Linked DNA regions of Homo sapiens. The protein of the gene in region 4 purifies or fractionates together with the protein of the main gene of each other region. This does not show direct contact. Each region holds a gene or a part of one and is shown on either strand. Other genes may lie near its edges.

The links.
Region 1: the proteins of RBM25 (region 4) and PRPF40B purify together in Homo sapiens (affinity purification with mass spectrometry; 3 studies listed by BioGRID and IntAct, with this or other methods). This does not show direct contact.
Region 2: the proteins of RBM25 (region 4) and NCBP3 purify together in Homo sapiens (co-immunoprecipitation; 2 studies listed by IntAct, with this or other methods). This does not show direct contact.
Region 3: the proteins of RBM25 (region 4) and EPB41L2 purify together in Homo sapiens (affinity purification with mass spectrometry; 2 studies listed by BioGRID, with this or other methods). This does not show direct contact.

Annotation. Positions count from the first base shown.
Region 1 is NC_000012.12:49,619,132-49,627,209, reverse strand, and holds the start of PRPF40B (pre-mRNA-processing factor 40 homolog B), read right to left. Parts: upstream 3,650-8,078; 5' UTR 3,620-3,649; coding exon 3,617-3,619; exon of another isoform or gene 3,418-3,616; coding exon of another isoform or gene 3,391-3,417; exon of another isoform or gene 3,040-3,390; intron 2,392-3,039; exon of another isoform or gene 2,263-2,391; coding exon of another isoform or gene 2,046-2,262; intron 1-2,045. UniProt on the Homo sapiens protein: May be involved in pre-mRNA splicing.
Region 2 is NC_000017.11:3,801,043-3,808,479, forward strand, and holds the end of NCBP3 (nuclear cap-binding protein subunit 3), read right to left. Parts: 3' UTR 1,116-7,437; downstream 1-1,115. Other genes in the region: ITGAE (integrin alpha-E isoform 1 precursor), read right to left, coding at 69-102. UniProt on the Homo sapiens protein: Associates with NCBP1/CBP80 to form an alternative cap-binding complex (CBC) which plays a key role in mRNA export. NCBP3 serves as adapter protein linking the capped RNAs (m7GpppG-capped RNA) to NCBP1/CBP80.
Region 3 is NC_000006.12:130,863,751-130,871,598, forward strand, and holds part of EPB41L2 (band 4.1-like protein 2), read right to left. Parts: intron 6,632-7,848; coding exon of another isoform or gene 6,578-6,631; intron 6,377-6,577; coding exon 5,813-6,376; intron 3,832-5,812; coding exon 3,709-3,831; intron 1,885-3,708; coding exon 1,786-1,884; intron 1-1,785. UniProt on the Homo sapiens protein: Required for dynein-dynactin complex and NUMA1 recruitment at the mitotic cell cortex during anaphase.
Region 4 is NC_000014.9:73,053,882-73,062,223, reverse strand, and holds the start of RBM25 (RNA-binding protein 25), read right to left. Parts: upstream 3,691-8,342; 5' UTR 3,519-3,690; exon of another isoform or gene 3,440-3,518; intron 3,139-3,439; exon of another isoform or gene 2,989-3,138; intron 2,949-2,988; exon of another isoform or gene 2,771-2,948; intron 1-2,770. UniProt on the Homo sapiens protein: RNA-binding protein that acts as a regulator of alternative pre-mRNA splicing. Involved in apoptotic cell death through the regulation of the apoptotic factor BCL2L1 isoform expression.

The DNA.
Region 1 (8,078 bases), on a different chromosome or scaffold from region 4:
AGTCTCAGAATTAATGAAATATAATATCCGTGGCCCCTACTAGACTGAAAACACTGAAGGGCAGGGACTTCATCTGTTTTTGCTCACCTCATATCCAGTTCCCATTGTGTTTTCCTTACCACCATCTATGGGTACAAACTAGGTGCTAATAAGTATGTGTTAACTGAATGACTAAATGGTCTTGGCAAGTCCTACAAAACAGTAGGGGGCCACTGGTAAGTTAGGTCTAGTAGTTATTCAGGGAACATAGAATGTCAGAACTGGAGGAGACTCTGGCAGTCACCCAAGGTATCCCCCTTTTTCAGGGAATAATCTGTCCAAGGAGCCACCACTGGTTAGGGACAGAACTGGGACTGGATCCAATCTGCCCTCTAGCCCTCCTCCCTTAAAAGCAAAGCTCCTACCACATGAAACAGGTCTGTTTGCAATCTAGTATATCCCCTGCAACCTAAGTGGTTAAATCACCAATGATTCAACGTTTTATTGAGAACTTACCGGTTCCCGATTGCCTACCCTACAAAATCTTTCATCTAACAGTCAAAGCCTTGCAACGAAGGCCGCCCCACACTCTTCTTTGCTCATCCTGACTCAATGGCTTCCCTCCTCCTCTCTTTGCACAGAATTGTTAGATTACCCTCAAGTGAAACACATTTCTTTTATTCTACAGTCTCATGCTTTGTTCAAGATGATCCAATATTCACCTCCTTCAGGTTACCCTTATGACTATCCCACACACATACACACACTCCTACCTGTGTCCCTTCAGGATAAATGATGCACTACTTTGCAGAGTGACATGCTACTCTGTGAATGTTTGCTGGGTGTTTCATGTGGGACTGCTTGTCTCCCACTCATGTGGGGATTTCCCTACATTCAGGGATTGAGTTTTCTCCTTTTATACCTCCCCCAAGTGTTTAGTCAGGGCCCTGCACACAAAGTGCTGTGATAAAATGCAGTCTCATCTCTAACCTTATTAGATTTTTGCATACTGGAATATCCTAAAATGCACTTTGAAAACAGTGTATACACGTGTGCATATGTACATCTGTATAAATTCTCTGACATACAGGCTGTGACAGAGAGAGGTAGCTTGGCAGAAGTCTTTGTGGCTTGGAAAAAGGAAATTGGATTGAAATGTTGGCATGAGAAAACCTAATAAAGCTAACTGTATACAGTCATCTTCAACTTGGGATGAAGACCTCTGGCCAGGATTCAGACACTGGCCTATTCTGGACAGTTCCCCACAGAGGACAGAACAATGGAATAAACATAAACTACTACAGAACTTCCAAAGCCCTTCCTTCGCTGAGCTTCCCGTGTTGTGTCCCTGCTTTCCTGAAACACCCCGTCCCTCTCCTACCTGCTGCAGTGCCATAAAACTTTGGGTCTTATTTTATTTCTGGGTGAGAATATGAAGACATTAACTAGTGACAGGGAAGGATATAGAAATGGTTGCTGAAAGAGAAGCAGATCCTGTGTCTTCCCTGGAACAAAAACACATTTGTGGGCTGAGAGATGATGAAGAGACACTTGATCATCTGATCATCATATGTTCACCTGGGCCAGTGAGGGGCCACCCCTTTCCCACCACCAAAGATGCAATCAATACTTCTGGGACTTCACATCTAAGGGGCATCTCAGAACTTAGCACTCAGAAGAATAAAAGGAGAAAAGGACAAGAATGGAGAGGCAGTAGGAAAAAAAACAGAAAGAGGGAATGATAACAGCTAATAGCTAATATTTACTGAGCACTTATTATGAGCCAGATACTGTGTCAAACACTCATTTAATCCTGGCAACCATCTCAGAGGTTATTATTCCCATTTTACAGATAAAGAAACTGAGGTTCAGAGATTAAGTAACCTGACCAAGGTTCCAAGACATTAAATGGGAGAGGCAGGTTTGGAATCCAAGCAGTCTGACTCCAAAGCCTGTGCTTTCAACCAGTTCACAAAGCTGCCTCCCAGCAAGGATGATGGCGCCACAGATGATACTGCTTACATTCAGATACATTTCCTTTTTTCTTTTTTAACCCCAATCCTTACACAATCCAGAAATCCTCAGCGAGCCAGGTGTTCCCAAGGTCTGCTTGGTCTGACTCATTCCCACTTCCTGAAGATGAAGGCTGGGAGGCACATCTCTCAGAAAGTGGTAGCCATCATCAAAAAAAAGGCTGAGAGACCAGCTGGTTACCCTGTGATCTACCTGCGGCCCTTCTTCAGCTGCCCCAAACAGCACCTGCCCTTCCGTTTCAAAGACCATCCTAGTTTCCAACTTTCCTGGACCAGCCCTACTCTTCCTCTTGCTCCCCAAAGATCTGCCTTACTAGAAAGTATCTTCCTGTTGCTTTTTTTTTTTTTTTTTGAGACAGAGCTTCGCTCTTGTTGCCCAGACTGGAGTGCAATGGCGCGATCTCAGCTCACCACAACCTCTGCCTCCCGGGTTCAAGTGATTCTTCTGCCTCAGCCTCCAGAGTAGCTGGGATTACAGGCATGGGCCACCACGCCTAATTTTGTATTTTTAGTAAAGACAGGGTTTCTCCATGTTGGTCAGGCTGGTCTCCAACTCCTGACCTCAGGTGATTCGCCCGCCTCGGCCTCCCAAAGTGCTGGGATTACAGGCATGAGCCACCGCGCCCGGCCCCTGTTGCTTCTTTCTGATCCTGCCATCTCATCACTCTCCCTCTGAAGAAGCGAATGTTACTTTTGGTCTCCATCATTGTGGAGTTAGGTTTCAACCTCCTCCTCTCCTTAGAGTTCTTCCATCCCTCCAACAGGATAAGGCTAGCCAGCCCCAGCCCGGCAGGCTTTCTGTCTACCATCCCCCCGCACCCGTGGGGATTTCTCCAGCCCCAGCCCAAGGCCTCGCCTCCATCTTCATCCTTTCCTTTGCTTCCCTACCAAACCCATTCTCCTAAACTTCCTCCTCAAAAACCTATTCATTTAGACCCTGGAAGAGATCTGGGATTTAATTTTCATGCATTTCCTTTTTAAAAAAATTGATGGGAAATCTGAGGCCCAAAGAAAGGTAGTGACTTGCCCAAGGTCACACAGAGTCGTTAGTTTGTTGATGGCCTGGGCTGGGAGCCCCTTTCTTCAGAGGCCCCCTCTCCACCTCAGGAGACAAGCTCTTGCAAATGCAGGAAGGTGAAGCAGGGAGTCCCCAAGTGGTCTGAGGAGCACCCAGGCTTCCAAAGGGAACGGGCGCTGGGGCTGGGGGAAGGGCATGTCGCACACCAAATATCCCAGGAGGGGAAACTGGTCCCCACCTGTCCCCTGGTCCCCTCAGTCCCCTCATCTCCGCCCTCTCTCTTCTTTCCCGATCTTTCTCCGCGAACCCACCCCCACCTCTCCCAATCCCACTCTTCACCCAGTCCCGCCACTCTCGCACCTTTCGCCCCCGGCCAGGCTCCATCATGGCCTCCCCCGCCCCTTCGCCCCCAGTCCCCGCCCCCATCCCCCCTCCCGGGCTCTCTTCCCTCACCCTTGGCCTCCCTCGCCCTCCCCGGGGTCCCAGCTATCCCCAGCGGCCTCCCCGCCCCATCGGCCACGGCCCGGGCCGCAGGGGGCGCTGTGGGACCGCCCCGAGCCCCTCCACCCCCGCGCGGGGATGTTACCATGCCAGAGCCTCCGAGCAGCTGGGCCGGCTCAGCCCACCCGCCAGTAAGAGCCGCTCTGATTGGCCAGGCCGCAGCCGGGAGGGCGGGGCCGGCGGGGGGTCGCACCCCTTCGTGGCCGGGGCTCCGGTGGCTCCCGCCGGCGAGCGGGGCCCCAACCGGCCCGGTGTGTTCGGTCCCGGCCCCGCCCCCCCGGCACGGAGAACCAGGCCCCGCCCCCGCGCCGCCGCGTCCCGGGTCCGCCCCCCGGGGGGCGGGGCACGCCTGCTCCCGCCTCTGACTGACGGTCGGGGGCCGGCGCCTCTGCCTCTCCCCGCTGCCTGCGTCCTGGCTTCGCAGTCGCCGGCGCTCCAGGAGCCGAAGCGTTCACGCAGTGTGTAGGGTGCCTTTGCGCTGCACAGCGAATTTAATTTGCTGTGTAGCTCTTTTACAGTACTTTTAAGTTAGTTAACTCCAGAACTATTTGTTGAGCACCTGTGAGGTGGCAGGGTCTGTCTCAGGGACTGAGCACACAGCAGCTTGGAAAAAAAAAAAAAAAAAGACAAATCCCCGAAATCACGCCCTTGTGGGGCGTACACGTGCTTCTCGCGTGACCCTGAAGTTCACTTTTGGGACCTGGCTCCCACTGAGCGCTGAACTCATGAGAGCAGGGCCCACTCTTTGACAGAAGTTAAAAATGTGAGGTACATGCTTGCTGTGCGGCTGAGGAAACTGTAACCTGGAGCTCTGCGGGGAATGCGCTGAAGGCCTTGGGGCTGGAGAGTGACAGGCCCCAGGCACACGGGTGCAGAAAGGCGCTGACCGCCAGCCTGCAAAGCCCCGCAAAAGGCGCTTCCTGTTCCCTTTATTCCCCCCTCACCTGAGCCGGGACTCGCGTGATGCCGTGCTAGGTTCCTGAGAGCCAAAGAACTCCGGAGAGGTAGAAAAACTCCTGACACGAAGAGTTAGAGGTGACACCTGGGAGGAAAAGGAAGTGGGATTCACCCTTGTGGGCTGCTGTAGAGAGAAAATGCTTTGTGGTTTAATCAAAATGATACCCACATGGTCTCAAATGAAGGCCCAGCTCTGCGGTTTTCTTTTCTTATTTGAGGCAGCGTATTGATCTGTCACCCAGGCTGGAGTGCAGTGGCACAATCAGGGTTCACTGCAGCCTCAGCCTCCTGGTCTCAACCGGTCCTTCTCCCTCAGCCTCCGAGTAGCTGGGACTACAGGCGTGTGCCACAACGCCCGGCTAATTTTGTAACTTTTTGGAGACGACGTCTCCCTGTACTGCCCACGCTGGGTCCTGTGGTTTTCAAACTTTTGGGGGAGGTGGGGTGAGGAGACTGGCGCGCGGCCCGCAGCCGCCGCCGCGGCAGGAGAGGGGAATGGAGGGGGCGGGCGGGGGGAGGAGGACGGACCACCGGCGGCCTCTCCACCGCTCCCACCTTCCCCCGGGGGCTGCCGCGATGCCAGCGCAGCTGGGGCGATTTTCAAACTATTATTGAGATCTCTAAGTATAGCAGAAGTGGTCCAGAGGTTCCGTGAACTTTCATGAATTGCATTTTTATTTTTTAAATGCTTTTCTTTTCTTTAATGAAATATTTCTTAGAACATGTACACACATATAGAATCGAATAATTGTACCAGATTTGTTAAGACAAACAGCAGAGCCCTGCCCCCATCGTCTTCCCCTCTCTGGAGGCAACGTTTTCACCTCTTTTAGCTGTTTCTTCTGGCATTTACCTTCACATCTCCGGCCTTCCCCCAGCTGCAGCCCTCCCCACAGGGCAAGGGGTCCAAGGGGATTTGCCCATGCAAAGCACACTTGCCCAGGATTAGACCATATTCTGAATACCTAGGACCCTGGAATTCCCTGCCCAGCTTCCTCCTTGGGTCTGTCCTCCCCAGGGAGACCTTCTGTTTTTTCCTGCACAAACTTTTATTTTTCCTGGAATTAATAATCTTGTTTTTTAAAATCATTTATTTTCTATGTATTTCTCACAAACTCTACCTCAAATTCTTCCCCCAGTTGCTTAAATTTCCTCTCAGAATATCTAGATATAGCAGAGAATTCTCTCCATTTCATCTTCTTGAAGACATCACTGCTGGAGACTGCTGACCTTCTCCAATCTGACTGTTCATCCCCTCACCTTGCTGCACATCTGGCAACCTGGCATCTCTTTTCTCATTCTCCTGGGCATGTTCTTTGCCTCATTCTTTTGTTGTTGTTGTTTTGTTTTGAGACAGAGTCTCGCTCTTGTTGCCCAGGCTGGAGTGCAGTGGCTCACTGAACCTCTACCACCCGGGTTCAAGCTATCCTCCTGCCTCAGCCTCCCAAGTATCTGGGACTCCAGGCATGCGCCACCACACCCGGCGAATTTTTGTATTTTTAGTAGAGATGGGGTTTCACCATGCTGGCCAGGCTGGACTTGAACTCCTGAGCTCAAGTGATCTGCCTGCCTCGACCTGGCAAAGTGTTGGGATTACAGGCGTGAGTCACTTTGCCTGGCTGCCTCACTCTTCTGTGGGATTTTTATTTGCCATATTCTATGCTTTTCTTTTCTTTTTTTATTTTTTTGACATGGTCACTTATTTTTATAACAATACATATACCATGTTATCACCATGGAATGTAAATTCAGGTTAGACAAGAGAATTTCACAAGTGTAATGGCATTCTGTAGTATAGAAAAGCATGTGTATAATGTCTGTTCAAACCAGCTTGCTTATAAATCATTAATTCCATTATAGGTAATATGTTTAACGTTTACAATTCTTACGGAGAAAATAACATTTTCTCCATTTAAAAAGTGTTCTTCAGTTACCTTCCATGAGTGCTTGAAATACATGTTTCTGTTTCAAGATGACATTTAAAAATTATCCTTATATTACAGCAGCAAATACAGATATCTACAATTACAAAAGAACTAAACTAGAATTCATAAGTTATTCTCATGTTTACAGTTATGATTCTTTAATAAATGCTACTACTATGCAGCTCTATTGTAAGCTTCCTAGATTTGATTTAAACACATACACATATATACTTTCAGCTGTGGGAGGTTTTACAAGTTATATTCCATGCACTTTTTTTTTTTTGTATTTTTAGTAGAGATGGGGTTTCATTGTGTTAGCCAGGATGGTCTCAATCTCCTGACCTCGTGATCCACCTGCCTTGGCCTCTCAAAGTGCTGAGATTACAGGTGTGAGCCACCGCGCCCAGCCTCCATGCACTTTTTTGACAGAGTTCTAAAAGAGCCAGCCAGTCCACAAGACAGGCAGAAAAAAGTTAAATTAACTGGGGCAAATAGAACTCATATAACATCCAAAACATGCAAGATTCTGCAGCAAACTAGGAGTACTTCAGGGTTGGTTTGCTATCTTCTTTAGAACTAATTTTATCCTAACAGTTTAAGAAGGTGGACATTTCAACACCATCTTTTAGGTGACATGTTTCTTTTGTGTTAATTTGACTCCCCTGAATGACCTAGTTAGTAAACTAGTCACTAGTAATTCAGTCACCAGGCAAATCAAGCCTGCAAGAAAGAAGGCCAGTATTCACAATGCCGTGTTATCAGCTGAACCCACTCAAATAGTTTATTTTAATCATTAATATGTAGCTTCAATAATGAGATGTGGACGCGGTGGCTCATGCCTGTAATCCCAGCACTTTGGGAGGCCGAGGTGGGTGGATCACTTGAGGTTAGGAGTACAAGACCAACCTGGCTAATATGGTGAAACCCCGTCTCTACTAAAAAAAAAATACAAAAATTAGCTGGGCGTGGTGGCGATCACCTGTAATCCTAGCTACTCAGGAGGCTGAGGCAGGAGAGTCACTTGAACTCGAGAGGCAGAGGTTGCAGTGAGCAAGATTGTGCCACTGCACTCTAGCTTGGGCAACAGAGCAAGACTCCATCTCAAAAAAAAAAAAAAAAAAAAAAAAAAGAGATGTCTAACTAAAGTAAGCTCCTCCAACAAAACCAAGATAGCATTTCTTCTACGGTGTAGGTTTTGCCCAGAATTCCCGATACATGGAATGATAGCCCATACCAACAGTCATTGCTCCTTCAACAAAGCCTTGGGCTGCCACACACATGTGGATCAGATGATGCAACATTTTAGTATTTCCCCTGCTCTTCAGTTTGTATAATACATATGCAACAATTGCTGCAAAACCTGCCATTCCAGTGGGGATGAATGGTGCCTCTTTAGCTTTTCAAATAAGTTTGGATCCCTAGATTTTCATCATATGAAGGGAAACATCTGTATTTGTTGACACAGTGATTGCTTGAATAATCTCCCTAGAGCGAGAAAACCCCCTCACACACCAACCGGCTTCTGATCCCCACCTGTGCCTGTGTTTTTCTTGATTTATAATACTCCCGCTTTTTTGAGGAGACCATCATCCAGAAGCTTCCTGAGAAAGGGAGCAGTAAATTATTTTGGAACTTTGCGTTTTTGCTGTTGTCATTTTTCAACTG
Region 2 (7,437 bases), on a different chromosome or scaffold from region 4:
AGTCTGCAGACACCTGGCTGGAGCTGAGGGCACAGCAGCCCCTCGAAGCAGCGGGTGAGAGGACTTACTGGCTATGCAGAGCAGAGTGTGGAAGAGCCACATCCTTGCTGGAGCAGAGGCGGCTGTGTGGGAGCCGAGGCGAGTGCGACACATGGGCCGTGGCCCACTCAGCTTCCCCTCAGCCAGGAGGCCAGGAGGCGGGGACAGAAGCACACACACCAGCAAGGACCCACAGACCGGCACTTTCAACCAAACAGAGACACTCCGGCTCGTACACAACCAGCCGTGTGGCTTCCTCAGTTGTGGGCTGGACCCTAGGAGCTTAGGGGCCACTGTCAGCCCCACTCTACCACCCACACTTTGACCCACACTTTCATGGAATAGGGAGCTGAGGTTTGGCCAGGGCCACAGTTCTAGGTGTCCTCAGCAGATGCTGGAGGTGCAGGAGCAACGTGAATCCAGCCTGCCGTTCGTATCATCCATTTGAGTCGGTCCCCTGTCCTGCCTCAGAACCTACCACCAGACATCTCAGCCCAGCTTCCAGCCCAGGGTCCTCGGTGGTGGTTGCCTCAGCACTGAGACAGGCGTCCCCCTCCCATAGGAAGTGCCTCCCCAGCCAAAAACTGGGCTCTTGTACCAGCCCATGCACTCAAGGCCCTGGGGTTCTGGAGGGCCAGGTGAGTGGAAAGACCCAACGCACTGAGTGAAATCACTGCCTCGATTCAACTTCGGCTGCGTTCATTCTCTTTAAAACCAGGACAGCAACCTGACGTGGAAACTGACTGAACAGGACTCTGAGTTACCAGAATAACAGAAGTAAAATTCTATACATCTTCCAGCATACCTGTGATGCATCCCAGCATTCCACAGAACACGCCGTTGACAGCTGGCAGTCGTGTTTAAGTGCTGATCTGAGATCTGTACTGTGTGACCAAGTCTGTGACACAGAAGGAACTCTCCTGCACCCCTGCTCCCCAGGCTGCTGGAAGTGCAGAGTGGCGCCGTCAAACAGAACTCTGCGCGGGGATGGAACTGCTCTAGGTCGACGCTGTCCAGGATGGTACTCATGAGCCACATATGGTACTAAACCCTTAAAATGCCACTAGAACAACTGATGAACTGAATTTTGTATATTTTATTTAATTTTAATTAAACGTAAAAAGGCAGGACATTCCAAGGCTCTCTAACACGAGTGTCTGCAGCCCCATTCGCTTTGAGATGTGAATGTGTTAACCCAGGGTGGACAATGGTGTTGACTTCATTACTAGATAAAAATCCATGTTATTTTGTTTCTCGCATTGAAAGGCTGCTTGGCTAAGGTTCTGTGAAGATCCGATGACATTTCCAACACTTTGCCTTGTCTGCTTTGCTCTGACAAAGTGCTTATGACTACTAGATCTTGCTCGGTTATGTGAGATTACAATTCACCGGTTTCCATCCTGTATGAAACAGAAGTTAAACAGTTGTAAAAGCAAAATTCCAGGTCTGGTGGTTTTCCTGCCAGGTCATGATGAAACCATCCTACTTCTGTTGAACCTCGTCCCAGGCAGGATCGGGGCCTGCGGCCTACAGCCTGTCTTCCCAGCGCTCCAGGGCTCGTGACCCTCCTCCTCCCCTCACTTCATTCTGCGCTCCAAGGGCACTGGGGAGAGTCACAGTGGTCTCCTCTCCCCCGCATTGGCCTAAAGCAGGAAGAGAGCAGCCCAGTCACTGAGCAGATCCCTGCTAGGGCAGGGCTAGAACCCAGACTGCAGCTCACTCGAGATTCCTGAGAGAAGACTTTGTGTTTGGAGTGTGAACGTCAGGGTGCCTCGGGAAGCCAGGGAAAGCTGATGACTGGGTGCTGGACAGGGAGCAGGGCCACTTCTGTACCTCTGCACACTTCTAGAATGCGGACTCATCCTGCATCCATCCAGTATGTATTTATCCAAGCGTCAGTGCCTCTAGTCATGAGACACACAGGGGTCCGTAAAGCCCACCTGGCGGTAGCTGCTTTCCCCACAAACCCAAACTACATCCCCAAGGTCAGGGCCAGGCTCTGTTGAGTAATGCTCCCCATCACAGCACGCAGCACAAGGCTGGCTGTTTGACAAATACACACATAACCAAAAGACATGTGAATGTGGTTTCCCAACTCACTTTAAACAAATATTCCGGGACCAACTTCAAGGACGTTCTACAACAGAAACTGGACTGTACTCTTCACAAACATCAATGTCATGAAAGACAGAAAGGCTGAGGACCTGCTCCAAACGAAAGGAGGCTGCAGAGAGGACAACTAAAGGCAGCGCTTGATCCTGGATTGGATCCTGGACCAGAAAAACAACGGCTTTCAAAATCATTATTGGGACAGTTGGCAAATTTGAAACAGGAACTACAAATTAGCAACTCCTGGGCTGATCAGAGAATATTACACATTTCCTGAATTTGAGAACTGTACCATGGGCATGTGAGAGGCTGTCCCTGTTCTTGGGAAATGTTCACTAAAACATCTTACGGATAAACGAGCATGATGTATACAAATAATCCTCAAATGGTTCATGGTTCAGAGAGGATAGGAAGAAACAGGGGTGAGGGAGAAGAGGAGGGAACGAATGAAAGAGAAAATGTGGCAAAATGTTCTTTGTTGTACCCTTCAAACTGCTGTGATTTTGAAATTATTTCAAAATAAAGTTTTAAATATTTTAAAAAATTTTTTTCTTTCTCCCCTTGATACCAGGAAGAATAAAGTTTTTAAAAAATGGGCAGGTGGGCCAGGCGCGGTGGCTCACGCCTGTAATCCCAGCACTTTGGGAGGCCGAGGCGGGCGGATCACAAAGTCAGGAGATCGAGACCATCCTGGCTAACACGGTGAAACCCGGTCTCTACTAAAAATACAAAAAAAATTAGCCAGGCGTGGTGGCGGGTGCCTGTAGTCCCAGCTACTCAGGAGGGTGAGGCAGGAGAATGGCGTGAACCCAGGAGGCGGAGCTCGCAGTGGGCGGAGATCATGCCACTGCACTCCACTTGGGTGACAGAGCGAGACTCCGTCTCAGAAAAAGTGGCCAGGTGCACTTGTAGTCACAGTTACTTAAGAGGTTCAAGCTACTTGGGAAAGCTTGAGCCCAGGAGTTTGAGTCCAATCTAGACAACATAGTATGAACCTGTCTCTTTAAAAAAAAGTTGCAAAATGTTCATGGATGGAGGAGACGTGCTCGGCGTGAGGTGAAAGGGCTGCCTGTGGGTCGGGCGTGGTAGCTGACACCTGTAATCCCAGCACTTTGGGAAGCCGAGGTAGGCGGATCGCCTGAGTTCAGGAGTTTGAGACCAGCCTGGGCAACATGGTGAAACCCTGTCTTTACTAAAAACACAAAAAATTAGCCAGGCGTGGCAGCGTGTGCCTGTAGCCCCAGCTTCGGGAGGCTATGGTGGGAGAATTGCTTGAACCTGGGAGGCGGAGGGTGCAGTGAGCCGAGACTGCGCCATTGCACTCCAGCCTGGGCGACAAGAGCAAGACTTCATCTCCAAAAAAAACAGAAAGGGCTGCCTGCTGTCTTCAGAGTGAGTCAAAAGCACTGAGGCACAGCCTTCAGACACAGGAAATGGTTCTATTCTCCCACTTGCCTTCTGACTCTTAGGAAGCCAGAAAGAGTGACGGCATTGCTGAGACCAGAGCCCAGGGCTGCAGAGCAGTGGTACTCACGACCTTTGAACACTCGGTAGGAGTGCCCTGCTCAGTGCCAAGGCCTCACATGCGAGCCCTCATCTGAGCCTCTCAGCCACCTACAAGGTCAACCCGATTTCTCAGATAAGGATGCTGCCTCTGAGAGGCCACATAGCTAGTAAGGAGCAGAGCTGGGACTCCAAACAGGCCTGTTTCCTCCAGAATCAGGACTCTGAACCACCACAAACTCTCCTGCCTTCAGCTCTTTTGGTGTGTAGACTTTTTTTATTTTTGTTTTTGAGATGGAGTCTTGCTCTTTCATCCAGACTGGAGTGCAGTGGCACAATCTCAGCTTACTGCAACCTCTGCCTCCTGGGTTCAAGCGATTCTCCTGCCTCAGCCTCCCGAGTAGCTGGGACTACAGGTGCCCGCCACCACACCCGGCTAATTTTTGTATTTTTAGTAGAGACGGGGTTTCACCATGTTGGCCAGGCTGGTCTCGAACTCCTGACATCAGGTGATCCCCGCCTCGGCCTCCCAAAGTGCTGAGACTACAGGTGTGAGCCACGTGCCCAGCTAGGTGGTGTGTAAACTTTAAAAAAGCAGAGATTTCATCCCACAAATGCAGACTGGGATCTCCACATGACCAGGTGCTGTGGACTGAACTGTAAATGTCCTCCAAATTCATATGTTGAAGCCCTAACCCCCAATGTGGCTCTTCTTGGACATATGGCTTTTAGGAAGTAATTAAGGTTAGATGAGGTCATAATCCAGCAAGATTGGTGGCCTTACAAGAGCCATGTGCAGGCACCAAGAAAAGCCTACGTGAATAAGACAGCAAGAGGGTGCTCACCATGTTGGCATCCTCCGGCCTCAGATCTGTGGGGGACTGCGGGGGTGATGGGACAGGGAGAGAACAAGGAGTGGATTTTCTTGTCCTTTCTAAGGAAGGGGCTGGGAGGGCGAGGGCTGCACTGGGTGCTGGGACCAAGGGTCCAGGGGCTTGGATCTCTTGTTTACAAACCCCTACTTCTTTCCTGCTATCTAGCCCACACCCCTGATGCTCCCCGGAAAGGAGAGCAAGGATCCTTGAACACGCGTTAGCACTAGAAGGAAACTGGAGCTCACCCCAGTTGAGCCCTCCATTTGACAGACAGGGAAGCTGAGGCCCAGGGAGGTGAGGGGACTTGCTCAGTCTTTCCAATTGAGTATGTGGGGCAGAAGGAGTCCCCAGAGCCCCGGCCCCAGCCACCATCCTATTTGACTTTCCCCAACAGGCATTCTACCTCAGCTAAAGATGCTGCCTGCCTCTCACAGGCCCTGAGGAGAAGATGGCCACATCACAGGATCGAACACTACCACAAAACTCCTAGGAAGGGACAGGAAGGTGAGAATCCTTTCTTTTTTTTTTGAGACGGAGTCTCGCTCTGTCGCCCAGGCTGGAGCGCAGTGGCGCGATCTCACCTCACTGCAACCTCTGCCTCCCGGGTTCAAGTAATTCTCCTGTCTCAGCCTCCCAAGTAGCTGGGACTACAGGTACCCACCACCACGCCCAGCTAATTTTTGTATTTCTAGTAGAGACGGGGTTCCAACATGTTGGCCAGGCTGCTCTTGAACTCCTGACCTCAGGTGATCCACCCGCCTCGGCCTCCCAAAGTGCTGGGATTACAGGCGTGAGCCACCAAGCCCGGCCTGAGAATTCTCTTCTGTCAATGGTGTGGGCCTCTCGACCTCACTAACCTATATTGGCCCAGAGGTGATGGTGACAATTTGAGATAACACAAAGTCTCAACTATTTACGAACCTGGTCATCCAGAGAGGGCCCCGGAATTGCTCAAATGAACAGTAAGAATCCTGAGGCAGGGTACTGACCTTGGTAGGTGAAATACCGCCTATACTCTCAAGTTTTATGGATAGTGCAGCCAAATTCCACTCGGATGCCTCACAACTACTTAAAATTGGCTTTTTGAAGCAGCATTTCCCTAACTACTCCCAGGAACAAAGTTCTGTGAAATGTTCATAGAGCTTCATTGAAAAAAAAAAAAAAAAAAAAGCTACAATATTTTTCTTCTAAGATTTATTTTATAAACATGTAAGAAAAGTTGTAGATATTTATTGTGGGTCTGGTTATGCAAGAACAATCTTCCTGGACACAGTGTGCGATTCTCAGTATCAAAAGCATTCTCTTCTTTCAGTTCGTAAAAGAAAAACATGGTTTAACTTCTAATTTACTGCTTATTATAAGGTTTAAAAGCAATTACTGTACTTATGTATCGAACTTATTTGTGTAGCAACTAATTCATCTGTGAAGCCATGGTTTGCTGTGGCTTCACAGTAAATTTTGACTTAAGTCTAAAGCGTGTGTTAGCATCTCACCGTAACTTAATGCTTCGAGTGAGAAGTTTGAGGAATGCTGCTTTAGGCAAAAGAGCCACTGGAGGAATGAGCTCTGCTCTTTTCACCTGCTCTGGACTGCTCTCACTTTCCTCACCGACAGGACCACAGGCTTAAGAACTGGCTCAGCAGTCCTTCTTTAGGGTCTAGCGCCTGCCTACCAGCTTCCTCTACTTCTATCCCGGGACAGATGAATGCTTTTCTAAAAAATATTTTGGACCATCTGCATGATTCCCTAGCAAATGCTTTAGAGAGCTGGTAAGCTTCAGCTCCGACATGGCCAGATCATCAAAATTTGAAGTTTACTCAGGTCTATTTAATGAGATTTTTTTTTCTTATACAACCATATGCACTTCTGAATAATCTTCCCTTTTTCGAATCTGGGGCTTTCATCTGGAATTAGACTAACCTGCAGACAGTGATGCCAGAACTGGGCTGGGTTACCATAATTCATTCATTTACCAAACACTTTCGAAGCACTACTTACTCTGGGCTGGCCTGATGAAAGGATACAGAGATAACACCACAAAGAAACTTGCTCATTAGGAGCTTGCTTACTGGCTAGAAAGGAAAATACAACATGAAAATAAAGCATTGTACGTACATGGCAGAAAAATGACTAGCCTGCCAGAGGGCCCCAGAGCCTCAGAGGATGGAGCCACTCCTGAGGCTGGAGGGTTTACAAACTCATCCCATCTTTACAGAAGACCTGCTAGATGCCAGGCATGCTGGCAGGCACAGGGGAAAGCCCACTCAACAAGCAGACACGGTCCCTGCTCTCACGGAGCTTACAGTCTAGCAAGACAAACTAGGAACAAGAAATTACAGTCCAGTGTAGAGGTGTGCAGGGTTGTGGGGTACAGTGATTTGGCATTATACACACATTTCGCTTAAACACAATGGTATTTGTCTGAAAAAGATTTAAAAAAAGAAAAACAAATCAGTTGTTTGGGCCATTCCGCTGGCCCCTCCTTCACTCCATGAGCATAGACAAGAGGGCGGGCCCGGGCAAGCTCATGCCTCTGCTGCACCTGCGGCCTGCCTCAGTTCCCAAGCTCCCCAAAAGTGATCTTCTCGCCTAAATGTGGTTCTAACACCCCAAAACAAGTGATTTTTGCACAACACAGCCCTAACTGCAGGCCAATCACTTCACCTGGTACTCAACCAAACAGTAATGTGTTCCCACATGGGCAAGAAATGACTACATGGGACCTCAAGATGTTGGTCTTCAATAGGGCACCTTCCTTAGATTTCTAAGAGGAATTTTAATTACACTCCATTTTTATCTTAGGCACTGACCTTAGAACTGAATCCTGGAGAGAGCTGAGACTCTTCTGTGGCAGTACCATGGGACACATAGAAGTAGCCTATACCCTGGCTCTGGAAGTTGGGGACTGCCT
Region 3 (7,848 bases), on a different chromosome or scaffold from region 4:
GCAATCACTGAAGCACGTTTACACAGTCAGAGCAAACAGAGATGGGAGTCCACCTAGACCTGTGGATCATTGTAAGGCCACACACAACAAGCAGCAAAAGACTGATATTCTAGAAACACTTTGTGCTTTATTTTTAGGCTCAATAGAGAATCCTATTACTAAAGTTATAGCATCCACAAGTATCCCTCAGCTGAGAGCAACCTTAAAACTCATTTATCAATATTCAAGATGGCATCTGTCCCATCTTAATCTCACTTGATTAAGATAGGACAGATATTATTTAATCCAAGTAGTTCCTTTAAGGGAATTCTGTTATAGTTTCCCGAGTTTCTTTACTCCTAGCTGGCCAATTTTTAAAAAGGAGAGTAGGGAGAAATCAGTTACTTGCAGAATTACAAGAAATTATAAGAATTTAGGTATCTGTTTTTGGTTTGAGAAACTGTTTGATGTGATATATATTTTTTTCCCATCACAGAAGACTTCTGTATGATGTGATGGTTTTGACTGATGGATTCTGAGCATACAAATTTATTTGCTGATTTTGTTTATTGCATTTAGTGCAATAATTTTAAAAAGGATTTGCTTTGGTTTCAGATACGGAAGATGGATGAGATTTTTGTTGAATGTTTGATTTGATGACACCCTGCGTAAGTAGTCATACACGTAGACATGGCGCATGGCTAGACAAAGGCTGCGAGCGGGGCTGGAGGAGGGAGCTCCTGGGGGAACTGCCTCACAGCGTTATGGGCTCCGTACAAGCTGCGAGTGCCTGGGGCACACTGGATGAGGCTGAGGAGATCATCTGGCTGTGACCTTCTAAACAGTCAATAAGCAAATACCACACGGTCCTGGGAAAGCGCACATCCAACATTTACAACTCTGATAAATGTACACTCTCAGTCACAAGTGACAGCATTTTACCATAACAAACCAGGCTTATCACTATGCTTAATAACTGGATATGCTTTAAAATGAGCACCAACAGTACCTTGCATTTATGCGGCATTTTTAAATTTACAAATTACTTTTGCTGTTTTTTAAATTGTTGTTGAAACATGGGTTGGGAAGGGCACAAGGGACACCTTTAAGACCTTTAGACACTTATCCAAAGTAAAAAACAGAAGAAGGAAATAGTGGAAAATAAGGCTGGAGTTAGAAAGCTGATGACTTCAGCATGCATCAGAATCACTGGAAGCTTCTTAAGACAATTCTAAGGTTTCAGGAGGACTGGAGTGGGGCCACGCTATTTATACTTCTAACAATGCCCCGGGTGAAGCTGATGCTGCTGATCCAGGGATGACTGGTTACCCAGTGCTAAACATTTAGAGAATTATGCAGGGAGGAACAGGGGAATGCCCCAAATCAGTATACTAGCGATCTTAAATGAGGGAAATTCTACATTATTTGAACAACTTGCTGAAAATTCTGAATGATGGCCTTCATTCATTCGCTTTAGTCAGGAGGGCTGGTTTAATAAAAGTAGAAGCACAAGTTTGTTTTTATAAATTATAAATTTTATTAAATTATTTATGGTTTTGTAGCTATCTTACATATAGCTATTCGTAACATATTTTTACCCCCTTGTACTTCACAAAATTGCAATTTGGCTTGAATGCATTTGTCAATGGAGCCTAATTTCTTGGATACTTTAAACCAAGGCATTTTGATTCCGCTGGCACTGTCTGTATCTTACTTGGAAGTGTGTACAGGAAGAGAGAAACAATTCAGAAAAGATTCTGTCTGTAATGTACCATCCTCTCCATATGATCCCCTGCATTGCTTTACCTTGGTGATGTGTGTGGTTGTCGTTGTTGACACGGACTCAGATGTGATGGTTTGTGCGGTCAGTAACGTGCCCGAATCACCACCAGCCCCGCCATCAATCTTTGGATAGTTGGGGGAAAAATACAAAGTAATGCTTAACTTCTGTTATGTTGTCAGAGAAGATCCCCGCCCCATCGAATATGCATCTTTTAAAATCCATGTGGTTTGCGTGTTTGCAGTAGTAATTACCATCCAGGAGAGCGGCTGGTATTTGAAACCGAGTAGAGGCAAAAGGCTAGGTGCACATGGAGAAGCAAACTCAACTGTGTGAGTGGAGAAAAGAGAGGAGAATGGACATAGTAGGTGGGACTGAAAGCTACAAGGGAATTATGACAGAATTTGTCTGAAGGACTTTTGCACAAGCTAGAAAATGAAACTAGAGAGCCAGGCAGAGAAGTTTCCACAGTGACCAGAAGCGCTGAGTTTGTTGTTTTTTAAGCACAGGTGGGTAAAAATAGATAAACATTTTATCAAATTACCAAGCAACAGAACCTGACCAGGACAAACTGAATCTGCATGATTTGGTTATCTGCTTACCTCTAGCGATTGTTTTCATCAACTACATTGTTCCTGTAATAGTTTGCATGTTGTGAGCATATATACGGGCACATATATTTCAATACTGCACATACGCATGTGCTCCTACATATATATAAATCCCATACATATGTTAAAATAGATTTTAACTTGTTTGCTTTGATATTGAAAGATGCAGAAGATTCTAGAGTTTCCAAGGGGAATCAATGAAGCAAATTAATAGCCTAACAGTTTATGTTAAGATCACGAAACATATTTGCCCTCTGTTTCCTGACACTGACACGAGGAAATAACTGGACGGTCCAGAGCCTTTCTGACTGTAAGAGGAAATCTCTTTCAAACTTGGGTCATGCACCTGTATGTCTTCATTCTGGCAACTTATCACAGCACAGACACATCACTAATGCTCCCCCGCCAAGCTGTTCATAAGAAACCTATTTGTGCTTATGTGGGATCAAGGCACACACAAGGATGCCATATCCAAAATAATTTTCAGATGTGTTTCACACATGCATGCATTAAACCTTTTAAAAAATATTCTGAGAGGTCAATAACCTGACATCCTCCACCATGATACAATTCTACCACAGAAGGTTCATCTTCTAAGTGGAGAAAATATTTATTTTATATTCTATTTTGAAATCATGAATGCTTTATCTTTTTTTGTTATTCTTAAGGTTAAACATCTTAATGCTTATTCCAAATCTTTACAGAACCAATGTGTGAAAACCTAAAATCAAACACACAAATCTGATAATTATTTAGACACATGGTATCACCATTCACATATGAATGACTACATAGGTCTTTAGAAAATAATTCCACACGAAGGAGAAGCACAGGTGTGTGTGCCTGTGTGTGTTTGTGTGTGTGTGTGTGTGTATGTGTGTTATTACAAGCAAGAATGAGTTGATTGGGTCAATCTTCACGGAGTTAGAGAGGGAAAGAAGCCTAAATCACATCCACAATTAGATCGGATTATTATTAATCGATGAATTATATCAGATAAACTTTGCAAGACAATTTGTTTCCTAAGTGTACACAAACATTCTTAGATATGTCAACTCAGAAATGGCTTTCAATCATATGAACAAGATTGATACTGTCTGTCCTAAATAATCATATGTACAGTTCCCCTATAATTACTGGGTTACCAATTTAATTGCAGCTCTCTGTCTCAATCTAAGAGAACATAGCAAATTATGTTGTTGAAGTACACTTACAAAGTGCAGATACAAAAAGCTACATCAAAGCCAGAAACATGTAAACTAAGAGAAGAAAGAATGAAAACATAGATACACTAAGGGAAAAAAGAGCTCGAACAGTCCAAGTCTAGAGCTTTTGTACCTGTGGAGACTCATATGTGATGGTTTTGGTCTCAGTTTGGACAATGGGGACTTCCTTGGTGGAGATTTCTGTCCTTTGTGAGGCATCAGAAATTGTTACCATCTCTGTTTTTACCACTGGTGGCTGAGGTGGAAAAGGAAGGGAAAAATAAATTCTAGAGGTAATAAAGTAAAAGTGTTTAATGGAACCTTCACAAATAATAGTAAGAAACATATCCAAACACACACTCATGCACAAAAGAAAAGAGTAAAAGCAAACAACCTAAAACAAACAAAAGAAATAAAAGAAAAATTTTCCTTCAAATATATCATATATACACATACATACATGTGCACATAGATACGTACATATATATGAATGTGTGTATGTGTACATACACATATATGAAAAATAAGTTGACATGATGGCTTCCTAAATTATGTTACTCTTTAAATTAAGATGGTCCCAAACTACTTTTATGTCAAGCCTAGTGTATAGTGACACACACACACACACACACACACACACACACACACTCTCTCTCTCTCTCTCTCTCTCTCTCCTCCTCCCTCCTTAGCTTTGGGCAAGTAATAATAAATTGAAAAGAAAATAGAATGAACTATGTGAAGTGACTTGTCTCTATTTTTATTATAATTTAAAGGACCACATAGTTTGTGTGAAGGCTCACTGCCTTTAACTGGCATGCCAGCTAGGTAGGCTAAGATTTGTTCTTCTGCCCACAATACCTTTTCTGCCTTATTGTTAACAGACACACCATTTTCAGAAAGGATGTCTTCAAGTATTACTGTTTTCAGTTATACCTGTCTAAAATTTGCAGTGTTTCTTCTGTATTACCTAAGTTAAAATGCTCTATCTAAAATTACTCCATCAATGTTACACCAATGCTTTGAACAATTTAAAACATTAAAGGAAATATTCAACGGCTTATTAACATTTTAGTCTGCCGAGTATGCATGCTTAATATTAATGCAACACCAGACTATACTACTACCAAAATACTGCAGTACTTTCTTTGAGAGAACATTCTCAACAGGCATAATTATTTAAAGAGGAGTAACGATATGTTAAATACAGAATAGTTCAAAGTGTTCAAAGACTCTTGAAAAATCTTCTCTAAAGTGAAACAGAAGTTTAAAAGTAACATGGTTAAAATCCACTTAATTATTTTAAGACAAAGTCACTTCAACATTTTCCATCCCATCGAAGAGAACAAAATAAATCTCTGTACTGTGGGCATTTAATATTAAAATCAAGAAATATTCCCAAGGAAATAAACCCTCCCTCAGCCTAACTCCCAAATGAGAGACACTGCACTTAGTGACCAAAAAGTTCTCTTCTTTGAAAAGAAAAAGATTCATGTCCAATGTATAGATAATCCACAAAACATATAATCATCTGGCAAATACTCCAGAATTGACATCAGGATAGAATGAGAAGCGAGGATATCCTCCTATCAAATAGCCTAGCCTCTGGCTGCCTGGAAGAAAAGAAAGGCTCTTAACAAAACCATACAACCCCTGCAATCCCAAAACAGAAATCACAGTGGCATTCAAGAAATAACATTCTCATCACTGCTGGATACTGCATTCAGAGAACCACGGTAATCAGAGACTGCTGTCATTTCTAAAACTCTGAAGCTGAAGAATGAGCCAAGAAGTCAAACCCAATCATGACATCAGGGGCACACACACTCAGCAGTGACCATTTTTTTTTTCAACATTACATATACATTTTTCTAATTAAACCAAAAGGGGAAAAAAAGGCATTTAGTGTGAGGAAGCAGTGCAACTGAAGACAAAACAGTTGAAAACACCCAAAACATGCAAAGAAAAATTTAAATGTGAAAAGGGAAGGAAAAATTGATGTGGTGCTTCTAGGAAAGTTTACCCTACAGGTGTCCAGTGGCCGCAGAGAAGCTGGAACCCATGAACTGGGCGGGCAGAAAATCCACAAAGCAGTGCTTCCCCCTTCCTCCCATGAGAGAGAAAAATCAGATTCTTGTTGAAAAAAGCTGAAGAACTGGGAGGACAGGAGAAGAAAGGCAGGAGTTCCCCATCTGAGAAGCAGCTCTAGAGTTTGGCTCCCACCTGGGACTCCCATTTACCTCTGAACAACAAATAATTTGTGGCAAAACATCAATGTCAACATGGGACACCTCTCCGTTAACTTTCTGTGGCTCTTCCTCTGCTTCTTCTCCCATGTCTTGCTTAAGAGCGCCTTCGTGTACACTCTTCTCTCCGGGTATCTTTTGGGCACCTACATTTTCCTGGATCACTGTTTCTACTGTGATTACACTGGCACCTGCTTGTGTGACTGGGCTGGCTTCGGGCACTGCTTCCTCCCTCTCTACTACCTTGGCTGCCGGGCGGGGTTCTTCCTCCACCTCTTCTTCATACTCCTGTTCCTCCCTGATGGTGCCCTCGGTCACTCGGTGGTGGGGACGGTACTCTCCCACGTCTTCCTCCTCACTCTCACTGCTGCTGCTGCTGCTCTCAGAAGACAGGGAGGTGGAGTCTTTTTGTGTCACAGGCTCCACCTTACGAATCTCCCCAGGACCACTCCCAGGTGATATCTCTTTACCATTCATTTCTTCTGTGATTACTCTTTCGTCTTTCCCAACCTCTGCCCGCTTCTTCTCCTCCACTATATTCAGAGTCTCATGTGAACTCTGTACAAAAAAAGATGGATGAGGGAAAACAAAAATATATGAATAAATAAAAACAACGGAAACCCAAATTAACCGATGGCAGATTCATGTCATGGAGAAAAACAAAGATGATTATGATGGCTGACTGAAAGGGAAGCGGGGCAAACGTGAGGGCAATGAGAAACGTGAGGCAATGGTGTTAACATGGAAAAAGGGGAGAACCTTAACAGCATCCCTGGCTCCAGTGCAAGGCCCTTCTGACTCGGGAGCACGTGTCTGCAGAACAAAAAGCAACCGAGGACACAAAATCAATACAGTTTTACCTCAACAACCACTGAAACAAACATCTGACACTGCAAAGACAAAACAGCAAGAATCAACATCTACAGAAACCTCTGCTCAAGGTCACATAGAGGACAATCAAGACAAATGCCAAAAAGCTTACAAAAAGACACAAAAACAGCCAGCATCCTCCCAAAGAAGTAAAATGCTTTTATTATAGATATACCTATAAGCTCTACCTATGTAGTTAAAACAGTTTACAAAAATTGAATTATACCAAAGCTGACTCATCATTTTAAAGAAAAAAATTTAACTTTTAAAACCTAGTAACAGTTTTGGTTTTAATCAGACTATAAAGTCTAGCCTGGAACGCTGATTCTTAAATGAACACAGCACCAAGGAGATGGCACTTTTATTTTTTGCTGGTTTTCTTTAAAAAAAAAAAAAAAGTTTTAATTGGCAAAATTATAGTTAGCCTCAGAAGGCTATTAACATGAAAATGTTCATTCCAGAAATGGTTATTAACTTTCCAATTCGTATCATAGGTTGGCAAAGGCTATATTATACAATAGGGTGGGTGTCAATGGTGACTCCAAGTGTTTCCTTTTACAATTTAGCTCCTCTACTAGCATCTTTGAAATCTAAACTCAGTCAAGTTTATTATTTGACATGTTCACTCCTATCCCCTTCAGACATCTACTTCTTGGGAGTAAAGTAATTTACTCCAGTTGAGTAATATAGCACCTAAATGTTCAATAAATATCTGTTGACTTAATACATTAGGAACAAATTACTATGTTATGATATTATTAACTAGGGTGGAAACCTTTTTGTACAGAGGGGTTTTTAAAGCTTCACATTTTTCTCACACTTACAAAAAGTCTGCTTTACAATGATATAACTCAAGCATGGCCAACTTTTTGACTTCTAGGTGGTACTACTGCCTATGATCTAACTTAAAAATAATTCAGCTAGAGCCAGGAGCCCTATTTATTCACGAAAGTGACTCCATTCTGGATGGAGAAGGGCACCACACCACTGAGCCCTCTGGATATTGTTGTGAAGCTGCCAAGGTACTAACTGGACTGGAGCCTCTAATAGACAGCAGGGCTGAGTTCATCTCTCCCAGACACTTGGACAACCATGAGCTGAAGATCCTAACATCACACACACACGTCTCTGCAGCACTGTCAACGTCTACTCACAAACTC
Region 4 (8,342 bases):
ATTGTTTGGAAATCTCCAAAAAAGAGTTGATCTTTTTCTGACATTGCCACTTTTGTTGTTTTACCATTTTCAATGATTAAAGAGCAACACTCCTGTGCCTGCCTATAGTCACAGCTACGCAGGAGGATCACTTGAGCCCTGGAGTTCTGGGCTGCAGCACGCTACTGATCAGGTGTTCATGCTAAGTCCATTCAGCATTAATATGGTGACCTCCTGGGATGAGAGAGAACCACCAGGTTGCCAACAGAGAAGGGCAAAACTCCCAAACTGATCAATAGTGGGATTACGCCTGTGAATAGCCACTGCACTCCAGCCTGAGCAACACAGGAAGAATTCATCTTTTTAAAAACAAAAACAAGGCTGGGCACAGTGGCTCATACCTGTAATCCCAGCACTTTGGGAGGACGAGGCAGGTGGATCCTTTGAGCCTGAGTTCCAGACCCGCCTGGGCAACATGGTGAAACCCCATCTCTACCAAAAATACAAAAAAATAGCCAGGCATGGTGGCGTGCACCTGTGGTCCCAGCTACTTGGGAGGCTGGGGTGGGAGGATTGCTTAAGCCTGAAATGCGGAAGTTGCAGTGAGCCAAGATCGCAGCACTGCCCTCCACCTGGGTGAAAGAGACCCCATCTCAAAAACCAAATAAAACAAAAAAGCAGCGCTATCTACTACTATCTATACAGAAAAATGAGGGCTTGCCTGAAACTGGGGTGGAACAGGGTGACTTGCAAACAGACAGAAGGAATCCTTTTGGGGTAATGGATGCATAACTTTGTATATTTACCAAAAATCATTGAATTGTGCACTTACAGGTGAATTTTCTATGTCAATATAGTTCATATAGCTGCCATTTTAAAAAAGGCATATTGGCCAAGTGCGGTGGCTCACGCAATCCCAACACTTTGGGAGGCCAAGGCGGGTGGATCACCTGAGGTCAGAAGTTCCAAGACCAGCCTGGACAACATGGTCAAACCCCGTCTCTACTAAAAATACAAAAATTAGCCAGGCATGGTGGCAGGCACCTATAATTCCAGCTTCTATGGAGGATGAGGCAAGAGAATTGCTTGAACCCGGGAGGCGGAGGTTACAGTGAGGTGAGATCGCGCCACTACACTCCAGCCTGGGTGACAGAGCGAGACTCCATCTCCAAAAAGGAAAAAAAAAAAAAAGTACACCAACTCAGAAAAATCGGCAAAATCTATTTAAGAACTGTAGATTAGGTATTTTATCAGTGTTAGTTTCCTGATTTTGATTGTCGTACTGTTGTTAGGTAAGACTAGTCCTAATTTTTAGAAAATACACTTAAGTATTTATGGGTTAAGGGGCATCACATCTGCAACTTACTAGCAAAACATTTCAGAAGAAACCTATGAAGAGAAGGATAAAGCAAATTGGCAAAATGTTAACATTTGAGGAATCTGGTGAAAGATAGCTGAGATTTCTTTTGTACTATTCTTGCAACTTTTTTTGTAAATCTGAAATTATGTCTAAATAAAAAGTTAAAAGCCAATACCAATAATTCTGGGTAGTGGAATTTTGTTCTTCTAGTTTCAGCAACTTTCAATTTTCAAAAAAAGGTAGAAAAGCTATTTAAGAAGAATCAAAAATCCCCTTTTGTGAATGGCAGTGATAGTGTTTGAAAAGTCAATCAAGAGATCTCTAAAATACAGACTGTTTTAGCAAGATGTTAAGATTGATAAATGATTCCTTTGCTTCCAAAGCTATAAAATAATGTAAATTTTCACTAAATCATGTGTAAATAAGAAAAGTAAACTGCTAATTTGTCTGTGGACAAAAACATAACTTGAAAATTCCAAATTCCTGTTAGGTCTGAAGTAGTTACCCAATGTTAACATGGACTAGTTTTACTTTAAAAATACATTCAGAAGGCCGGGCACGGTGGCTCACGCCTGTAATCCCAGCGCTTTGGGGCCTAGGCGGGCGGATCACGAGGTCAGGAAATCGAGACCATTCTGGCCAACATAGTGAAACCTCGCCTCTATTAAAACTACAAAAATTAGCCGGGCGTGGTGGCGCGCGCCTGTAGTCCCAGCTACTCAGGAGGCTGAGGCAGGCGAATCGCTTGAACCTGGGAGGCGGAGGTTGCAGTGGCCAAGATCGCGCCACCGCACTCCAGCCTGGGCAACACAGCAAGACTCCGTCTTAAAAAAAACAACAACACAAAACAAAAAAAAAAATTACAGAGTCAGGGTTGGACTCTTACATTTCATTGAAAATCCTTAAATAACAAATTATGTCAATATAGATTTAAATGCTTATGTGTGTTACCTGGATACTGCACGAAGGATTTTACATACGTTTTTCTCAATCCCCAACCCCAATAACGTATAGATACTACTATAAATTCATTTTACAGAGGAACAAAAACCAAAGCTTAAAAGAAAAAAGAAAAAGAAAAACCAAGGCTTTAAGTTAAATGAATTAGAATACTATAAGATTCACTTGAATCATGAGTAACTTATGACCAACTTAATCCCTTTCAAGTCCTCTGAATGTTTTTGGAAATAGCCTTTAAAAAAATTAAAAGCTCCAAAGACTATACAAAAATTATTTATACATTACTGCCCACGGCCTAATACACAGAGTACTTCACACTAATACAGCAGTAGGGTGCAACAGAGGTCCAATCTCTTCCCTTCTCTTGGCTCCACTCTGCCCAGTATCAAAATGGCATTTCCATGGCAATACAAATCCATATTACATAACCTCCGAAAAATCTTCATAGTCCTACGTCTATTCCGGAAAACCGTATTTAAAAGCAGGATTGACGACCAAAGAAAAATGAGAAAGTAACATTTTAATGTGGAGCTTAGTAATCGCCTAGAATGAATGGCGATATACAGTTTACTGCACCCTCCAATGCGCAAAAGAGGCAGGATGGCAAAATTCATGACTATCTTAAGCAAGCCAGGAGACTGCTAAAAAGGTAGGTATTAGCTCAATTCCAAGGGGGTGGGGCCCAGTTCACTTGGTGGCGGGCTCTAGATGGCCAAAGAGGAAGGGAAAGATATCCGTTGGTGGCCAGCACCTCGCTAAAAAGGGTGGGTAGAGGCTAACTTCAAGGCAACGGCTGGGGCGAGAGTGTCCCAGGCCCGAAAACCTACTGTGGGGCTCCGGTAAGTAAGGGGGCTCAGGGAAGGGCTCCCCTGGGGCAGATCGATCGTTTTGTATCTAACGTGGAGCCCAGGGGGGGCAGAGACGATTCACTCCGCGGCGGAACGTGGAAGGGAAAGGGAAAGTGGGCGACAATGCAAGACGGAAAGCTCAAGCCGTAGGTCTGGCCTCCACCAGCTACGGCTGGGCCCACAGCTTTTCCAGGCCTTAGAGAAGAGAAGAAACCAAGCCTCGTGCCGACCCCTCCCCCACCCCCGCCTCCGCGCTCCCCCTTACCTCTACCCCACCCTGGCGCTTTCGCAGCCACCCCGGCTTTTCCTCCTCCACCAGCTGAGGCACCCGGTCTCCCGGTTTCCACACGCGTTCAGAGACACAAACTCACCCGCCGCTGAGGAAACGGTACTGCCTTCGCGACCTTCTGGGATCCAGGTTACGAGTGCGCTCCACTGGTTCGAGATTTCTGCCCGTCGCTCGCCAGGGAGACTGAGTGCCCAAGCGCCTACTCGCACAGGCCGCAAATACAGCCGCGCTGCGCGGCGAGCTGATGGAGGTCTTCCTCTTGCCCGGCGTGCACTGCGGCCGGGGGCGGGGAGCGCGGAACCATAGAGAAGAACGTATATAGATCGTCTCCGCTGTTGGCTCTGACTCACCAAGCCGAGACGAATAACCATAGAGAAGCAGCGTCTAGCGGTTACTAGAAAGGCCCGAACTGTAAATTATGACCCACCATGTTTGATTGGAGCCGACTGAATCTTACGACTACGGGACGCCATCTTGAGGTCAAGGTTCCGGCTGGGCACGGCGCGAGGAGTGTTAGAGGCTTTCTCACTTTTCGTAGTTTTTCGGGGGGTGGAACCTTGCTTTGTGATTCCTTGAGGTTCGAGGAACTGATAACTGGGCGCGATCTGCAACCTTAGTGTTAAACCCCAAGTGCTGTTATAACAACTACTCGAGATCAACAAATAATTGGCAAAGGCTGTGGAGGTTTTTTGAAAAGCAAAAGCTTATGCGTAGTTGTAGGGCCAAAGAGGTGGCTAGAAGATGTTTGGAAAAACGTGAAAAGTCCTGTAATACTAGTTAACACAGCTTTCGTTCTGTAATCTAAACGTGCTAAAAGAACTTAGCTTAAGTTAATGGAAATGAATAAAATTAATCATAAATGATTACGTTATTCCAATTGTGGACCTTATAGGCAATATCTAGTTACACGCCTTTCTCAACTGCTTGCCTCTAGGAAGGCATAAAACGGATTCAGTATAAAGTTATTGCCTCCCTGAGTTCCTGGTGCTGTGTTAAGTGCTGGAAGTATGAAGGCAAATGGAAGTGAGATTTGTTCCTGTCCTGCAAGAACTGTGAGCCAGGTGAAATAGATGACAAACCATGACCAGCCTAATATAAAATTGAAACATACTACACACTTCCTGCCTGCCTCCCCTACTTAATTTTACTCTAAAGCACTCATAACCATCTATCATAACATACATTTTTCTTGCTGATTTTATGGTCCGTCACTACCCCCACTAGAATGTGAATGTAAGCAATGCATGGATTGCCTGTTTTGTGCAAGAACAGGTCCTGGTACATAGCAAGCGCTCAATAAATATTTGTTGAGTGACAGAAATGATTACCGGCCGGGCGCGGTGGCTCACGCCTGTAACCCCAGCACTTTGGGAGGCCGAGGCGGGTGGATCACCTGAGGTTAGGAGTTCGAGGCCACCCTGGCCAACATGGCAAAACCCCGTCTCTACTGAAAATACAAAAATAAACTAGGCGTGGTGGCAGGCGCCTGTAATCCCAGCTACTCGGGAGGCTGAGGCAGGAGAATCGCTTGAACCCTGGAGGCGGAGGTTGCAGTGAGCCGAGATGGCACCACTGCACTCCAGCCTGGGCAACAAAGTGAGACATTGTCTCAAAAAAAAAGAAAAGAAAAGAAAAGAAATGATTAACATATGATGAGTACCAATAGAACACAAAATTTAGTGGGAGCACAAATGAGAAAGTAGCACTAATTACTACCATCTGCAAAATTTACATCCTTCTATACTTCTGCTTGCTAGGTTTCCTTACCATTAACTAAAGTTAATAATACCTTTGGCCGTGCGTGATGACGAGTGCTTGTAGTCCCAGTTACTTGGGAGACGAAATTAACTTATGTATGTTTGTACTTTGTTCAGTAAAGTGCTATTCAAATTTATAGTTTTTATAGTGCTACTCTATAATGCTATTTATTGTTTGTAAATAAAATGAGTTTCTTTTTTTGTTTTGTTTTGTTTTTGTTTTTTGAGGAGGTGTCTCTGTTTCCCAGGCTAGAGTGCAGTGACGTGATCTTGGCTCACTGCAATCTCTGCCTCCCAGTTCAAGCGATTCTTGTGCCTCAGCCTCCCCAGTAGCTGGGATTATAGGCGTGGGTCACCATACCTGGCTAACTTTTGTATTTTTAGTAGAGATGGGGTTTCACCATGTTGGCCAGGTTGATCTCCAACTCCTGACCTCAGGTAATCCGCCCACCTGGACCTCCCAAAGTGCTGGGATCAAAGCTGTGAGCCACCATGGCCGCCCAAGAGTTTGTGCCTATTTACAACAAAAGGCATAAACAGAAATCTCAGATTAATCTGTGTCCCTTTTTATTATTAGAAACATTGTACATGAATTTGTGTTTACTGTGTAATAAAGGGAGCCCTCAGGCAACAATTTGCTAACTTTCCTACCTTAGACAATTTGTTGCTGATGTTCATGCAGCATCCATTCCCCTTGCCTTTAGTAATGAACCCTCCACATTTTTTAAAAGAAACCATCTTGGCCGGGTGCGGTGGCTCACGCCTGTAATCCCAGCACTTTGGGAGGCCGAGGCAGGCAGATCACGAGGTCAAGAGATCAAGACCAGCCTGACCAACATGGTGAAACCCCGCCTCTACTAAAAATACAAAAATTAGCTGGGCTTGGTGATGTGTGCCTGTAGTCCCAGTTACTTGGGAGGCCAAGGCAGGAGAATCGCTTGAACCTGGGAGGCAGAGGTTGCAGTGAGGCGAGATTGCGCCACTGCACTCCAGCCTGGGCAACAGAGCAAGACTCTGTCTAAAAAAAGCCAGGTGCAGTGGCTCACACCTGTAATCCCAGCACTTCAGGAGGCCGAGGCGGGTGGATCACCTGAGGTCAGGAGTTCGAGACCAGCCTGGCCAACATGGCGAAACCCTGTCTCTACTAAAAATAACAAAAATTAGCTGGGCGTGGTGGCAGGCACCTGTAATCCCAGCAGCTCAGGAGGCTGAGGCAGGAAAATCGCTTGAACCCAGCAGGCAGAGGTTGCAGTGAGCCGAGATCGCGCCATTGCACTCCAGCCTGGACAACAAGAGCAAAACTCGGTCTAAAAAAAAAAAAAAGAAAAGAAACCATCCTTCCACTACTCCAGATCCATGTACTTTGGATAGGAAGTCCCAACTCTAACCAGACCCCCTTAGGACACAGGAGTAAACTTACAACCTAATCAAAACCTGATGATTTAGTCACCCCTCCCTTTTTTTTTTTTTTTTTTTTTTGGTACTAGCCACTGTTTAAAGCATTTTGCAAATATCAACTCCTTTAATCCTCATAACAACCCCCTGAAGTAAGAACTATTGTGATACAAATGAAGAAACCAAGGCTTGCAAAAATTAACCTATCAAAGGCTACAAAAATAGTAAGTGAGCCAGTCTGGTTCCTGAGTTCGTGCTCTGGAACATTATACTGCTTCATCCTTTCAGGAATAATCCTAAAAAGAAGGGGAGGGGTCTCTATATTTTTCATTTAAATTGATTTTTTTTTTTCAATTTAAGCTTAGGAGGATTTAAGCTTAGAATAGATGGGGATGAGAATGAAATCACAGAAGAAAGCAGAAGTAAGACAGGGTGAGAGATTTTTGACAATATCAGTTGAGAAAATGGTTCATTCATTCATTTTGTTTGTTTTTTGGTTTGTTATTGCTGTTGTTATTTGAGATAGGGTCTCCCTTTGTTGTCCCGGCTAGAGTGCAGTGGCATGATCACGGCTCACTGCAGCCTCAACTTTCCAGGCTCCAGCGATTCTCCCACCTCAGCCTCCCAAAAGCCAGGATTACACTGAGCCCGGCTGGCTCAGCTACTCCTAAAGCCAGCTGTTCTAGGCTTATCAGTATGTAACCCAATACATTACTTTTCCGAAATCAGTTTGAGTTGAGTTTTCTATTCCTTACACAGAAAGAACTCTAAATGATACACTTATATACCACTTGTAGAGAACAAGCCAAGCCATTCATTTGCGATGCCAGTTATCCTCCTTCTATTTTTTTCTTACAAATCCTTGCTAAGGAAACTGTAGATAATTAATTTGGATATTACATTCTGTGTGCATTTGGACACCATTCTTTTTTTTTTCTTTTTTTTTTTTTTGAGATGGAGTTTTGTTCTCATTGCCCAGGCTGGAATGCAATGGCATGATCTCGGCTCACCGCAACTTCCGCCTCCCAGGTTCAAGCGATTCTCCTGGCATAGCTTCCCAAGTAGCTGGGATTACAGGCACATGCCACCATGCCGAGCTAATTTTGTATTTTTAGTAGAGGTGGGGTTTCTCCATGTTAGCCAGGCCGGTCTCCAACTCCCGACCTCAGGTGATCCACCTGCCACAGCCTCCCAAAATGCTGGGATTACAGGCATGAGCCACCACACCTGGCCTGGACCCTATTCTCATTGGCCACATCTGACCCAACTAAACAGCAGCATACCAGGAAAAATGTTGTTTAGCTGGAACTGAGCAGATCTTCTCAAAAATTGAAACTGGAGCCCAGCACAGTAGCACACACCTGTAGTCTCAATCATGAGGAGAGAGGATTGCTTGTGTGTGTGTGTGTGTTTGCGTGTGTATGCATGGCCATCATTATATATATATATATATATATATATATATATATATACACACACATAAATACATATACATACATAAATATATATATATATACAATGCCATTATATAGTATATAATGGCATAAAATATATAAATATAATACATATAATGCCATTATATATATAATATATGTGAATATATATAATATATATGTGTATATAGAGAGAAGAAGATAGAGAGAGGAAGCACATTAACACAGAATCTAGAGATCAAGGCTGGACTACCCAGCAAGGTGGAGTAACTGAAGTTTACCAAGTTAAGTCAGGACTCTGAAAGGATGTTAAAGTGCTCC